4 linked regions of the Homo sapiens genome follow. The protein of the gene in region 2 interacts with the protein of the main gene of each other region in a pairwise test. Each region holds a gene or a part of one and is shown on either strand. Other genes may lie near its edges.

Region 1 (3,500 bases), on a different chromosome or scaffold from region 2:
AATAAGATAAATTCTACTATTTAATCAGTGTTTGCAAAATGCTAGTTCTTCCTATTGATGCTTGGATATACAAAATTCTTCCTTCAAAAAATGTGTCTCAAGATAAAAGTTTAAGAGAAAAAAAAATTAGTAATTCAACATGAGGTTAGATCATTATCTTAATTCCCTAATAAGTGAACAGTCCTACCTCTGCATCAAACTTAGTAAATATTGATGAACCTAATATTAACTTTTAATCTGTTGTTTTAAATTATTTGTTCTGTTAACATGATAATCAAGATCTAATAACATTAAGAAAAAAAAATGCCTGCAATGCTATTTCCCAAGATAGCCAGTTCATTTCATACTTAAGGAGTAGGTACTTACCTCTGAATAAAGAGGTGGAGGCAAGAATCGAAACTCCTGGATATATGCAAACAGTGGTCCTTGAAGGGCTCTCTCAAAGTCATCACAAGCACTCACTGGTGCAAGATTGTTCCGCCTTTGTTCCTCTGTTACCACTTCTGCATAGCTGGGTGGTGCTGAAGGAAAAAGATACACGCAATTCGAACAGCATGTTCTTATGCATGTCAAAATACACAGAATAGTAGGTATTAAAAAGCAACGTCAAGGTAAAATAATTATTGTTTGGTGATCAAAACTATGAAGACATATAATCAAAACTGAATATTAGGGGCACATCTACTTTCTTTAGGAAAAGATTATGTTCATCTAGGGTCATAAAATATCAGAGGCAAAATAATTTTCTTGATAATAGTAGTAAGAGATTAAGCTTAGACGTGTATTATCAAATTACCTTCAGGTCTTTCAGGAAGTGATAAACTGAGCCAGTTCATATTCATGCTACACTGACTGCTTACACTTGAGGTTCTGCTACCAAATGGATGTAGAGGAATGGTACCGATGACAAGTGGCAAATTAAGAAATAAATCCATAGCTCCAGGAATATCCACATATACCTAAACATTGCAAAGAAATATTAAGTTTAGAATGCCAAGTATGATTTCCTTTTCAAAAACTCATAACCAATTTTAATGTTATTTGAAACCCCCATTTACTTCATTTTTAAACTTACATACATGAAAAGTTTCTCTTTTATGTATAATTCTGTATAGTACATTTACATATAAGGTATAATTGTAAGTCAAACTATATAAAGAGTTATGTATTTTATATGTCACTATATATGGAATTTAAAAAAATCAAATCCTGGATGTAAGACAAAACTATGTCATAACTTTAAGACTTAAAAACAAAACAAAAAAAAACACCAAAAACCTCTTGGGCCAGGCACTGTGGCTCATGCCTATAATTCCAACATTTTGGGAGGCCATGGTGGATGGATCACTTGAGCCCAGGAGTTCAAGACCAACCTGGGCGACATGGTCAAACTCCATCACTACAAAAAATACAAAAATTATCCAGGCATGGCTATAGGCACACCTGTAGTCCCAACTACTTGGGAGCTGAGGTGGGAGGATCACTGGAGCCCAGAAAGCAGAGGCTGTAGCGGAGCTGAGACTGTGCCACTGCATTCCAGCCTGGGTGACAGGTGTTTCAAAAAAGAAAAAAGAAAGGAAAAAACCTCTTAAATGTGTACATACCATTAGTGAATATTCCACGCGGATTATACTACAGTCGAGGATAGAGGGAGAAACTGGTGGAATTTTCAGCAACTTGCCATTCCACGTCTCTGTCTTTCCAGATGATAAGGATTCCCCACGCAAGTTAGCCACAAGCTGTTTTACTTCCTTCATTTTCCCTTTGGCATAGAAGGCCTGTGTTTGGTAAATGGCTGCCTTTGGCACCACCATTCGGGAAGAGCAGTTCTCAATCTCAGCAAATATCTGAATTGATTCACCTAGAGAGGGAAAAATATATACATATCTACTGTTAGAAAAAAACAACAAAAGAAGTCAAGATTCTTAAAGCTAAAGTAAGAAAGTGCAACTAACATACATGAAAAGATGTCCCAGGAACTGCAAATAACTTGAGTCATAGAAATGAACTAATCAGTAGCTATTTGAAAAAGGAAACTACATTCTACTTTGTGAAAAAAACAAATGGATAAGCACAATTTGTTATTTCACAAAAGAATACTATATTATGTTTATATTTAGTAGTCATATTATAAATTTAAACACAAAAGCTAAGTGAAGAAAAGTTTTTTGTGGGAATCTACCTCTTACATACCTGGGGTATAGCCCTTCCTTTCAATTTTGGCACTTAAGGATATTGGGCCTGAGGTACAGAACCAGCAACAGAGTGTCTTTTCTTTTGTGCCTGCTTGGGGTGACTGTAAGAAAAAAATTAAGAGAAAAAGGTCAGTGTATGGATTGGTACAATCAATACCAGAATATTTTAAAATATAACCCTAAATTTATGGAAAATTAAAAATTACAACTGGTTTTGCTTTTTTTTTGTATCCAGACATACTTCTTATTTTTTAACTAACCGATGGTTTTGAATTATACCATTACTTTTATTTTCATATAAATTTCCATTCAATTAGAAAAAAAAGGTAAAGGGTTTACAGCCTATCCCATAAACATAGTTTTTTAGCTCACACTATTTACAAATATAGTAATCAAAAACCAACCAAATAAAAAAAACCCTTTCCACATTCCATTTAAACTGCCTTAAAAAGGCAGCAAAGAAAGCAATCTGATTATAATTCCAAATGTTAACATCTTTCTCTGAGACTATTAAAAAATCAATATGTAAAAAAGGAAAATGCCCATTTCTTATGTGCTTTAAAGATGTTACCATTTGTTTAAATCAAATAAAGTTTTAAGTCAAATTTGAATTATTTTCAGACAAATGCAATTAAAAATAGATTTCTTTAAAAAAGGAGTTTTTTAATGAAACTAATGATTCCCCATTATTTGACAACTATCCCTCTATTGGAATAACAAAGTATAGTACAAATTTTAGATTATGATATTGTCAAGTAAGTGATATTGTATTATAATAAAAGATACTACTGCTCTTCTTCCACTCAAATCATCCAAGGACCAGATCTGTTTTTTGTTATGGCTGTCATACTCTGAGTAAGAGATACTTCATATCATATACTGGTCTTAGTTTTATATTTACTTAAAGGTATACTACAATGTCAAAAATATGAGCATATTTTTCATTAATTTCAGTGTTCTTGACTGTATTTAAGAAAATGTATATTTATGAAATTTTAAAAGAAAACCAGTATTTTTAAATTATGACAACTGCATAGTTTAGGTGATTGATTATTCTTTAATATTTATATGCCAAAAACAAAGAATAAATAATTCAGTCAATTCTTACCAGTAATGAAGGAGTGTTGATATCTATATGCTCAAAGACTGTAAATTCCTTCTTTAATTTTACTGGTAGTAGCCAAGGCCTGTGCAATTCGGCTTTCACCCAATAGCGCACACTGCCATGTCGGCCTTCGAATGAGGTAGCGAGTGGTCTGTGCAGAATATAAAGGTCAATATATTAATTTTATACCTCTTTCTAAC
Region 2 (2,940 bases):
AAACCTGTGCAGCCAGAGGTTAGCACAGAGGCGCTGTGTCATTGCTGAATGTTAGGCTACAGCACAGCTATCCTGAAGCAAAATTGTTCTGGAGTTAACCATTTAGAGCATCTTGGCTAATCCTAAAAAAATACATTGGTCTGGGCAGAAACTACTAGGCTGTCACGGTTTTAAAAAAAGAAGATCGTATCTTTTCTAAAACAGGAGACAAGAAGATCACACCGTGAGCAGACTGTCTGCACAGTGTAAGGAAGAAGGACCAGAGGCAGCGACTCCAAGGCTGCAACACCTGAGAGCTGGAGTCACTCAGGACTCTGCTCTGAGTCAGCCTAGTTCAGCAGTCAGCATGAGTTTTTGCTATTTTTTTCCTTCTTTCCTTCCTTCCTTCCCTCCTTCCCTCCCCCTCCCTTCCCCCCTTCCCCTTCCCCCCTTCCCTGCTTCCTTCCCCCTTCCCCCTTCCCTCCTTCCTTCCTGCCCCCTTCCCCCTTGCCCCCTTCTCCCCTTCCTTCCTTCCTTCCTTCCCCCCTTCCTTCCTTCCTTCCTCCCTCCCTCCCTTCCTTCTTTGAGACAGGATCTCGCTCTGTCACTCAGGCTGGAGTGCAATGACATAATCGTGGCTCACTACAGCCTTGAATTCCTGGGCTCAAGCGATTCTTCCGCCTCAGCCTTCTGAGTAGCTGGGACTACGAGTGCAAGCTCCCACACCTGGCTAATTTTTAAAGATTTTTTGTAGGGTTGGGGTCTTACTATATTGCCCAGGTTAGCTATTTTCATTTTTGAAAATTTTATTGGGTTTCTTTTCATTGCCATTAAGAATACCATCTACAGAGAAATTCAGTGAGAGGTAATAGACAAATAGCCTGGGGTGATCAATGGAAGCCTGACTAATGATTGGGTTACATACATGATTAATACCATGTTTTTATTTTGTAACAGCCATTGATTGACTTTGAAAATCTTTTATACTATTAAACTTTTTTTAAAAAGCCATTTCTCAGTTTTCTTTCTAATCTGTACTAGCTACAAACAATTTCTGTGACTTTCAGTCAGTTATTAAAAATATATTTTTGTGTCCTTTTTTCAGCAGCCCATGACCCATCGAGAAACTGCACCTGTTTCCCAGCCTGAAAACAAACCAGAAAGTAAGCCAGGCCCAGTTGGACCAGAACTCCCTCCTGGACACATCCCAATTCAAGTGATCCGCAAAGAGGTGGATTCTAAACCTGTTTCCCAGAAGCCCCCACCTCCCTCTGAGAAGGTAGAGGTGAAAGTTCCCCCTGCTCCAGTTCCTTGTCCTCCTCCCAGCCCTGGCCCTTCTGCTGTCCCCTCTTCCCCCAAGAGTGTGGCTACAGAAGAGAGGGCAGCCCCCAGCACTGCCCCTGCAGAAGCTACACCTCCAAAACCAGGAGAAGCCGAGGCTCCCCCAAAACATCCAGGAGTGCTGAAAGTGGAAGCCATCCTGGAGAAGGTACAGGGGCTGGAGCAGGCTGTAGACAACTTTGAAGGCAAGAAGACTGACAAAAAGTACCTGATGATCGAAGAGTATTTGACCAAAGAGCTGCTGGCCCTGGATTCAGTGGACCCCGAGGGACGAGCCGATGTGCGTCAGGCCAGGAGAGACGGTGTCAGGAAGGTTCAGACCATCTTGGAAAAACTTGAACAGAAAGCCATTGATGTCCCAGGTCAAGTCCAGGTCTATGAACTCCAGCCCAGCAACCTTGAAGCAGATCAGCCACTGCAGGCAATCATGGAGATGGGTGCCGTGGCAGCAGACAAGGGCAAGAAAAATGCTGGAAATGCAGAAGATCCCCACACAGAAACCCAGCAGCCAGAAGCCACAGCAGCAGCGACTTCAAACCCCAGCAGCATGACAGACACCCCTGGTAACCCAGCAGCACCGTAGCCTCTGCCCTGTAAAAATCAGACTCGGAACCGATGTGTGCTTTAGGGAATTTTAAGTTGCATGCATTTCAGAGACTTTAAGTCAGTTGGTTTTTATTAGCTGCTTGGTATGCAGTAACTTGGGTGGAGGCAAAACACTAATAAAAGGGCTAAAAAGGAAAATGATGCTTTTCTTCTATATTCTTACTCTGTACAAATAAAGAAGTTGCTTGTTGTTTGAGAAGTTTAACCCCGTTGCTTGTTGTTCTGCAGCCCTGTCTACTTGGGCACCCCCACCACCTGTTAGCTGTGGTTGTGCACTGTCTTTTGTAGCTCTGGACTGGAGGGGTAGATGGGGAGTCAATTACCCATCACATAAATATGAAACATTTATCAGAAATGTTGCCATTTTAATGAGATGATTTTCTTCATCTCATAATTAAAATACCTGACTTTAGAGAGAGTAAAATGTGCCAGGAGCCATAGGAATATCTGTATGTTGGATGACTTTAATGCTACATTTTAAAAAAAGAAAATAAAGTAATAATATAACTCAAAATGGTTTTTGTGGTTTCTAAATCTTTGAAAGCAGTGGCATCATGGAGATTGTCTGTCCCTGGTTTCAGTCAGAATAAATGACAGGTGCATTTAACAAGCCTGCTTTGGGTTTTGTGACGTCTCCAATAGCCCGGCTCAAGAGAGAATTGTCTTGGTCACCTTTCAGTCTCAGATTGCAACAGGAACCTGGGAAGACTCAGGGCTGTGAACTCCGGTAATGGGAACATGCCTGCTGCATCCGTTCGGACCGACCCAGCCAACAGCCAAGGTGCCAGTTAGGTAGCATGTCTGCCCACCTGTCCTCAGGCCTCACCAAGAAGCTGAGATTGTCCAAAAGTGCCCAGAGGGCCTGGCGCAATGGCTCACACCTGTTATCCCAGCACTTTGGGAGGCCAAGGCAGGAGGATCCCTTGAGGCCAGGAGTTTGAGACCAGCCTGGGCAACATAGCAAGACCCTGTCTCTACAAAAAACAAATCAGCCAGGTGGTGGCATGCGTCTTC
Region 3 (3,500 bases), on a different chromosome or scaffold from region 2:
TGTTTAAAACACTAATGTGATGCCAGCACCATCCCTAGAAATTCTAGTGATTCTGTGGAGCCCAGGCATCAGCAATTTTAAGACCTCCTCAGGTGATTCTAAAACGCTGCCATGTAGATGACCACTGGTCCAGAAGTTTTTGCCAAGATTCCTTCTATTGCTTGTTTTAAGGACCTATGGTATTAAAGCTGAAAATGCATCTTAGACATTTTGCAAAGGTGGAGCCCTCATCTTTACCTTTACAGCAGAGGTTTTTAACTTTGGATGAATCTATTAATTCCCCTCAATCATATACAAACTGTTGATTGAATATGAATATGTATATGTATTTGTATTTTTCAGGAGGGAGTGTCATCTGCCTTTATTAGGTTCTCAAAAGATTTAAGAATGCTATTTTAAAAGCAAATATTAGGTTTCTGACGTAATAAATTTAAGAAAATTAAAGAATGAATGGAAAATAAATTTGGTCTCATCAGCACCTTTGCTATAGTTTGGATTTGATCACACCCACTGCCACCTAGTGGCTATATATCCTTATTGCAGGTTTAGTTCAGATCACATTGCCCATCCTCTGAAAACTGTTGAGCAATAGATGTGCAGATTTCAGATCCAAGCATCAAAGTAAAAGCTTTCTCTGGGACTAGGATTAGTACCAGTAAGAGGCTATCTGGAAACACTCACTACAAGAGATGACTTCCCAAGCTGTACTTGTTAAGGAGACTGTCCACTCAGATATTTTGGATTCATACCCTTAACTGGGTAAGGATATTACGGTTTCCTAGTTCTTACTGTTGTTAACTATTTGCCTTGGCTTGAATCTTGTTTTTCTCTCTTACTAATCATGTGACCTTGGGAAAGTTACTTAACCTTTCCATTCCTCACACAAAATGGGGATAATATAAGTACTTCTAAGATTGCTGTGGAGAATAAATAAGAAAATATATGTAAAAGGCTCAGCATGACTCTTGGCACAGAACAAGATTCCAATAAATATTTAGGTTATATTACTGTTATTACTGATTTTTAAATTATTATTAACATCTCAGTGACCTTGTTCAAGTTACTAAATTTCTTTGAGCTGCATATATTGACCCGTAAGACAAGGAAAATAAGCCCTGCCATTTTCTTCACAGTTATAGCTATGATAAGTACAAAAAGTAAAAGGCATATTGTTATTTTATGGCAACTCATCATACATCCAGGGAATCTACAGAGCACAGGAAAAGGTCACTCAAAAATACAGATGTTAATTCTCACCCTCAGGAAGGAGCTCTTTGAGATCCCAATAGTTGAGCAGGCTCTACATTGGGGTACAGTAATTTCTTGTCACATATCTAGCATCCTACTCAGCCTAAAGTTTCCCACCACGTGGGCGAATGGATGGCCATACCCTGCTATGGATGCTGCAAGCTCCTTTTCCGGTAAGAGAATTATACCAACCACTCACTAGGTCACAAGTGCCTGAAATTGTCAGTCCTCATCCAGCCCAGACACTGACCGGCAGCAGTCTTGCCCATTCCAAACTCACCCCAGGGAGAGAGTCCCAAAAATCTTTTGCCAGCCTGCCTGTCCATGAGAGTCCCTCATCACACCATCATGGTCCACAACCTGCCCCACCAGAGCAGAAACATCCTGAAACCTCTCACCAGCCTCAGCAAAGAATCAAGGTGCCCAGCTGTTACTTACCTGGAGTCTGCTTGGCCGTACGCACAGGAGTGTAGTGGTTTTTGGAGGACGATCTGACCGGCGTGTTCTCTTTGGGAGAGGTATCGATAGCCGAGATAGTTTCTCTTTCACAGTGTGCTATGGGGATTGGTCCCTGTTGTCTTAAGATGTCAGCCAGAGCCCTAAACAAGGAGGAGATCACATAATGAGATTCACTGAGCAGGTGTGCACAACCATGAGGGGAGTTGGCTTACTTTCATATGCCCTTTGATTTACAGAGATGCAGGAAGAGACAGAGACAGCATTCAGCTCTCAATAGTCAGCTACATCTGGTGTTGGTCTCAGGGGGGACACAGGGTAAAGGTTACCATGCCTGGAGGTACAGACTAAAAGGCTGGGACTACGGTTTCTTTCTTTAATTTATTTCACATCAGTAAACTCTGAGCCCTTTCAAAATACTGGCTCCCCAAATATCCACCTATGCCAGGCAGGTATCTATAGCAGCTGGCCAGTGGAATGCCACTATGGTGAAGGGCTGAAACCATCGGCCTCAAATTCAGCAGCAGGTCACTAATATCAGGGGACCACTTCATCATCCAAAACTACACACTGAGTATCATGTACTAGATACTGGAGACCCAAATAAGTACAACACACAGCTCCTGCTATCAAGGAAGGGTGTGATTGAGCTGCAAAGACAGGACATAGAGATGAAAAGATAAAAATCAAAACACGTGGATGGTGCAGACATTGAAGACAACTGGAGTTTAGAGGAGGGAGCAATCACAAACACAGGGGAAAAATACACAGGAAGAAAGAGAGACAGGCAGAGACTCTGCCATAGCAGGAGAGACCCGCCCCCCTGCAAGAGGTCCAGTTACTCAGAGAAAGCAGCTTTTGTTAACTCAGCGCCTAGCTTCAACAACCAAACATGCATTGACTGACGATTCAGCATGCATCAGTCATTGAAGAGACACAGATCAATGGGACCCAATTCCTGCCATCTAGGGGTTCATAATTTAGGGGGAATCGCTCTCCTATTTGCTTTCAAACAGGATGCCCTCTGTGGGTGTGACATGTGAGATACCCACTGGCAGTGGGAAACAGATGAGTGTGGACAGCCACAAGAAACTACACCTGGATACTGTCACTTCAGATCCAGGTCCCCAGTCCTCAATGCACTCCCGTTTTGCACATGCCAGGCAAAGACTATTCCATCTTCTCGAGGGGTGTCTCTGATGGGTGGGGCCCTGCCCACCCCAAGGCTTCCCTCTTACCAGGAGTCCAGCTCCAACACTCTGCCCCCATGAAAAGTGACAACTGCAGCAGTTTAAAAATGCATCTGAGTAAATTGTGGGGGAAAGAATAGTTTCTTCACAAAATGGTCCTGGGACAACTGACTGGATCGCCACATGAAAAAGAAGGGAGTTGGATCCTTACCTCACACCATATAAAAAACTAACTCAAAATGGATTATATACCTAGATATTAGTCCCAAAACTGTAAATCACACTGAGATACCTTTTCATACACACTAGGATAGCTATAACCAAAAAGCCACATAATACCAAGTATTGGCAAGGAGGTAGAGAAATTGGAGCCTTCATACACTACTGGTGGAAATGGAAAACCCTGCAATCCCTTTGGTAAACAGTTTAGCAGCTCCTCAAAACTGCAATGTTCCTTAAACGCAGAATTAACATATGGCCCAGCAAATCTACTCCTAGGTATTCCCAAGAACAATGAAAAATATATGTTGCATTAAACTTGTGTACAAAGGTTCATAGCAGCAGTATTAATAACAGCCAAAGGGTAGATACAACCCAAAAGTCCAT
Region 4 (2,956 bases), on a different chromosome or scaffold from region 2:
CAGAAGGGTACTAGGGATGAGGGATAATGGTCTGGAAACAGTATGAGGACACGTGCACCACCTCCAGGCCCAGTGGGACACTGGGTGTGGAAGGGAAAATGCCACCACTACTGAGGTGGTAGGAGAAGCAGAGTCCTCATAAGAAACCAAGTCTGAAGAGCATAAATGTGAAGGGAACGTTCAGAGAAGAGGTTGAGGACACAGAGAATTTGACAAATGACTGGCCATCAGTTCCAGAGGGCACAGTGGAAGAGCTTCTAGAGTTGGAAAAGGTAGGTAGATGGAGACAAAACAGAGTGGAGATACATGGTTATTAAGTGTAAAAGATGAGATGACTCAGTAGTTTAGGACTAATTGTGATGATTGATATCAACATCAATAAGATTAAGGGTATGAGATTCGTTCTGTTGTTTGTGGTACGGAGGGATGTGCATCTGCGGGCATTCCTCAAGCCTGCCGATGGATGTGCATGTAGGAGAAAGTATACGGAGTAGAGGCAGTTTTAGAGTTACAAGTTAGACCAATCTCCAGGCTGTTTGTTTGTTTGTTTTTAAGAGACAAGGTTTTGTTCTGTCACTCAGGCTGGAATGCAGTGGCTCAATCACAGCTCACTGCAACCTCAAACTCCTGGGCTCAAGCTATCTTCCCGCCTCAGCCTCCCTTGGAGCTGGGACTACAGATGTGCGCCACCATGCCCAGATAATTTTTACATTTTTCAAATAGATGGTGTCTTGCTATTTGCCCAGGCTGGGCTCAAACTCCTGGGCTCAAGGGATCCTCCTGACTTGGCCTCCCACAGCACTGGGATAACAGGTGTGAGCCTCCAGGCTATTTTGAGAGAAGTCTTGCACACCTACTTCAAAGAATTTAAATGAGAGAATGAATGTAAAGCAGTTAGCACGGGACCCGATGCTATAATAATAGTTATGATACTACTATTGTTGCCAGGCACAATGGCATCCTTACTCAGGAGGCTGAGGTGGTAAGACTGCTTGAGCCCAGTTCGAGACCAGCCTGGGAAACACAGCAAGATTCCGTTTCTTAAAAAAAAAAAAAAAGATACCTCATTCTTGGTTCCACAGCAGCAAGCTCCAACAAGAATTTATCCAGCACCAAATCTACATTGGTCCTGAACAACACAATCCAATCACCAACATACAAAACCAAAAAACCAAAAATATTTTATTGCTGAGTCATCCTGGGGTTCCATAAAGGACCCCAAGCCTTGCTTGGAGTCTATAGCTTTGCTAGGACTCCCATGACATCAGGATAGAGATTGAGGCACGGGGTCCTTTGGGTTCCGATTAAGGAACTATCTACTCTGATTCTGTTGATCTTATTAGTCCCTCCAGGTCACCTCTACTTCATCTGTCCGATACCTGTGGAAAAACAGAAGAAACATGGTGGAGAGCGAGCCCTTAACATCCTTCATTCTTCTCTGCCCTCATGTTCCTGGACTCTTCCCTGCTGTTTTTGTCTATGTCCCAATAATCTACCCTCACCAAGAGGTGAATCACTCACCTCTGTGTAACCCCAGAATCACTGAGTGGGGTCCTGTGTCCAGCCCGAAACATCTCCCAGCCAGCCTGGGCTATCATCGCTCCATTGTCAATACAGAATCTGGGATGCAAGAGAGATGAAAATTGGGATCTAAGGGTGGAAAATCACTATAACAGGAGAAGTAAAAAAGAAACCAAAGGGAAAGTGTCTTTACCTCTCATCTGTAGCAAAAAGCCGGGCTCCACGTTCCTGGCACATTGTTGCCATCATCTCCTGTAGCCTCACATTACCTACAAAGAGGCAGGGAACAGGATTAGCTTAGTTTTAGCCATCTCTTCATGGTCCAGCAGAACACGTCATGTGCACTCACTTAGAACAATGACATAGGGGATTAGGGGCAAGGATTGGGAAGCCTACTCCAAACGCTTAATGATTTAGAGTACCAGGAGGAAGACGCATAGTGTTAAGAATAGGAAAGAGGAACACTTTTCAATAATACATACACCCCACTCCTCCCACAATGAGGGCCTCCTGGGAGCCACAATGTGCCATGGCTCGCTCTGTGATCTCTACCAGCATTGCAAACACAGTTTCCTGTCAGGGACAGATAAGGAGAAAATATTAGAGGGGCATCCCAGATTAGTTCTGCTCTACAATATAAAACCTTCAGCCCCAACTTTCTGTCCCAGTTTTTTACTGCATTACCTGCAGGGAGAAACACAGATCCTCAGGAGTACACTCGCCTGTGGCCAGCATCCGATGGGCTACATCCTACAATTAAAGGGAAAAACAAAAGAATCAACAAATCATGGTTTTGGGATTACACGAGAGCAAAAATTAATGCATTCGGAGGGTCATCATGTTTCACCACAATTCAAGTTACCAGCACATCCTGTACCACATTCCCTTCACTGGCATCATGGCATAGAATGAGCAGCTTTCATTTAAGATGCAATCATTACTTTTTGAATACTTGTCCTGACATCTCTCACCCCTTACTTATCCTGCTTAATTTTTCACCTGTACTCATCATCATCTGGCACTTCATTATTTTCCTCTTTCTTATCTCCCCCGCCCCCCATTTAGAATCTAAGCTCCATGTAGACAGGGATTTTTGTTTTGCTCCATGCTGCATCTCTACTATCTAGAACAGCATGTGGCACACAGAGATATTCAATGAATACCTTCTAAATGAATTTACCCAGCACATGATATGGACCAGTACTGTGCTACATGAATATACTGAGCTATACGAAATATAATCGTAAGTAAAACAGATATGCTTCATTTAAAAAGCATGAAAGTGCCCGTCTCATCACCTCTCACACTCACCTCAATGAAAGACAGGATCCCTGAGAATGAGACGTCCATCCCCTTTACAGTGTATGGCAGCTCAACTAGCTTCTTGCCTCTATGTGGGAATAAGCGTACGAGGCACTAAGCCTACAGTCAGCTG

Evidence for each region. The genes of interacting proteins can lie anywhere in the genome.
Region 1: the proteins of BAG3 (region 2) and ARRDC3 interact in binary tests that used the Homo sapiens proteins (3 or more experiments, as listed by UniProt).
Region 3: the proteins of BAG3 (region 2) and SHISA6 interact in binary tests that used the Homo sapiens proteins (3 or more experiments, as listed by UniProt).
Region 4: the proteins of BAG3 (region 2) and OSGEP interact in binary tests that used the Homo sapiens proteins (3 or more experiments, as listed by UniProt).

The regions. Positions count from the first base shown.
Region 1 is NC_000005.10:91,373,318-91,376,817, forward strand, and holds part of ARRDC3 (arrestin domain-containing protein 3), read right to left. Parts: intron 3,452-3,500; coding exon 3,304-3,451; intron 2,297-3,303; coding exon 2,194-2,296; intron 1,862-2,193; coding exon 1,605-1,861; intron 960-1,604; coding exon 797-959; intron 560-796; exon of another isoform or gene 522-559; coding exon 367-521; intron 1-366. UniProt on the Homo sapiens protein: Adapter protein that plays a role in regulating cell-surface expression of adrenergic receptors and probably also other G protein-coupled receptors.
Region 2 is NC_000010.11:119,675,380-119,678,319, forward strand, and holds the end of BAG3 (BAG family molecular chaperone regulator 3), read left to right. Parts: intron 1-1,084; coding exon 1,085-1,903; 3' UTR 1,904-2,440; downstream 2,441-2,940. UniProt on the Homo sapiens protein: Co-chaperone and adapter protein that connects different classes of molecular chaperones including heat shock proteins 70 (HSP70s), e.g. HSPA1A/HSP70 or HSPA8/HSC70, and small heat shock proteins (sHSPs), e.g. HSPB8.
Region 3 is NC_000017.11:11,261,713-11,265,212, reverse strand, and holds part of SHISA6 (protein shisa-6 isoform 1 precursor), read right to left. Parts: intron 1,848-3,500; coding exon 1,687-1,847; intron 1-1,686. UniProt on the Homo sapiens protein: Involved in maintenance of high-frequency synaptic transmission at hippocampal CA3-CA1 synapses.
Region 4 is NC_000014.9:20,445,901-20,448,856, forward strand, and holds the end of OSGEP (tRNA N6-adenosine threonylcarbamoyltransferase), read right to left. Parts: intron 2,912-2,956; coding exon 2,833-2,911; intron 2,272-2,832; coding exon 2,206-2,271; intron 2,095-2,205; coding exon 2,004-2,094; intron 1,791-2,003; coding exon 1,715-1,790; intron 1,621-1,714; coding exon 1,522-1,620; intron 1,380-1,521; coding exon 1,340-1,379; 3' UTR 501-1,339; downstream 1-500. UniProt on the Homo sapiens protein: Component of the EKC/KEOPS complex that is required for the formation of a threonylcarbamoyl group on adenosine at position 37 (t(6)A37) in tRNAs that read codons beginning with adenine.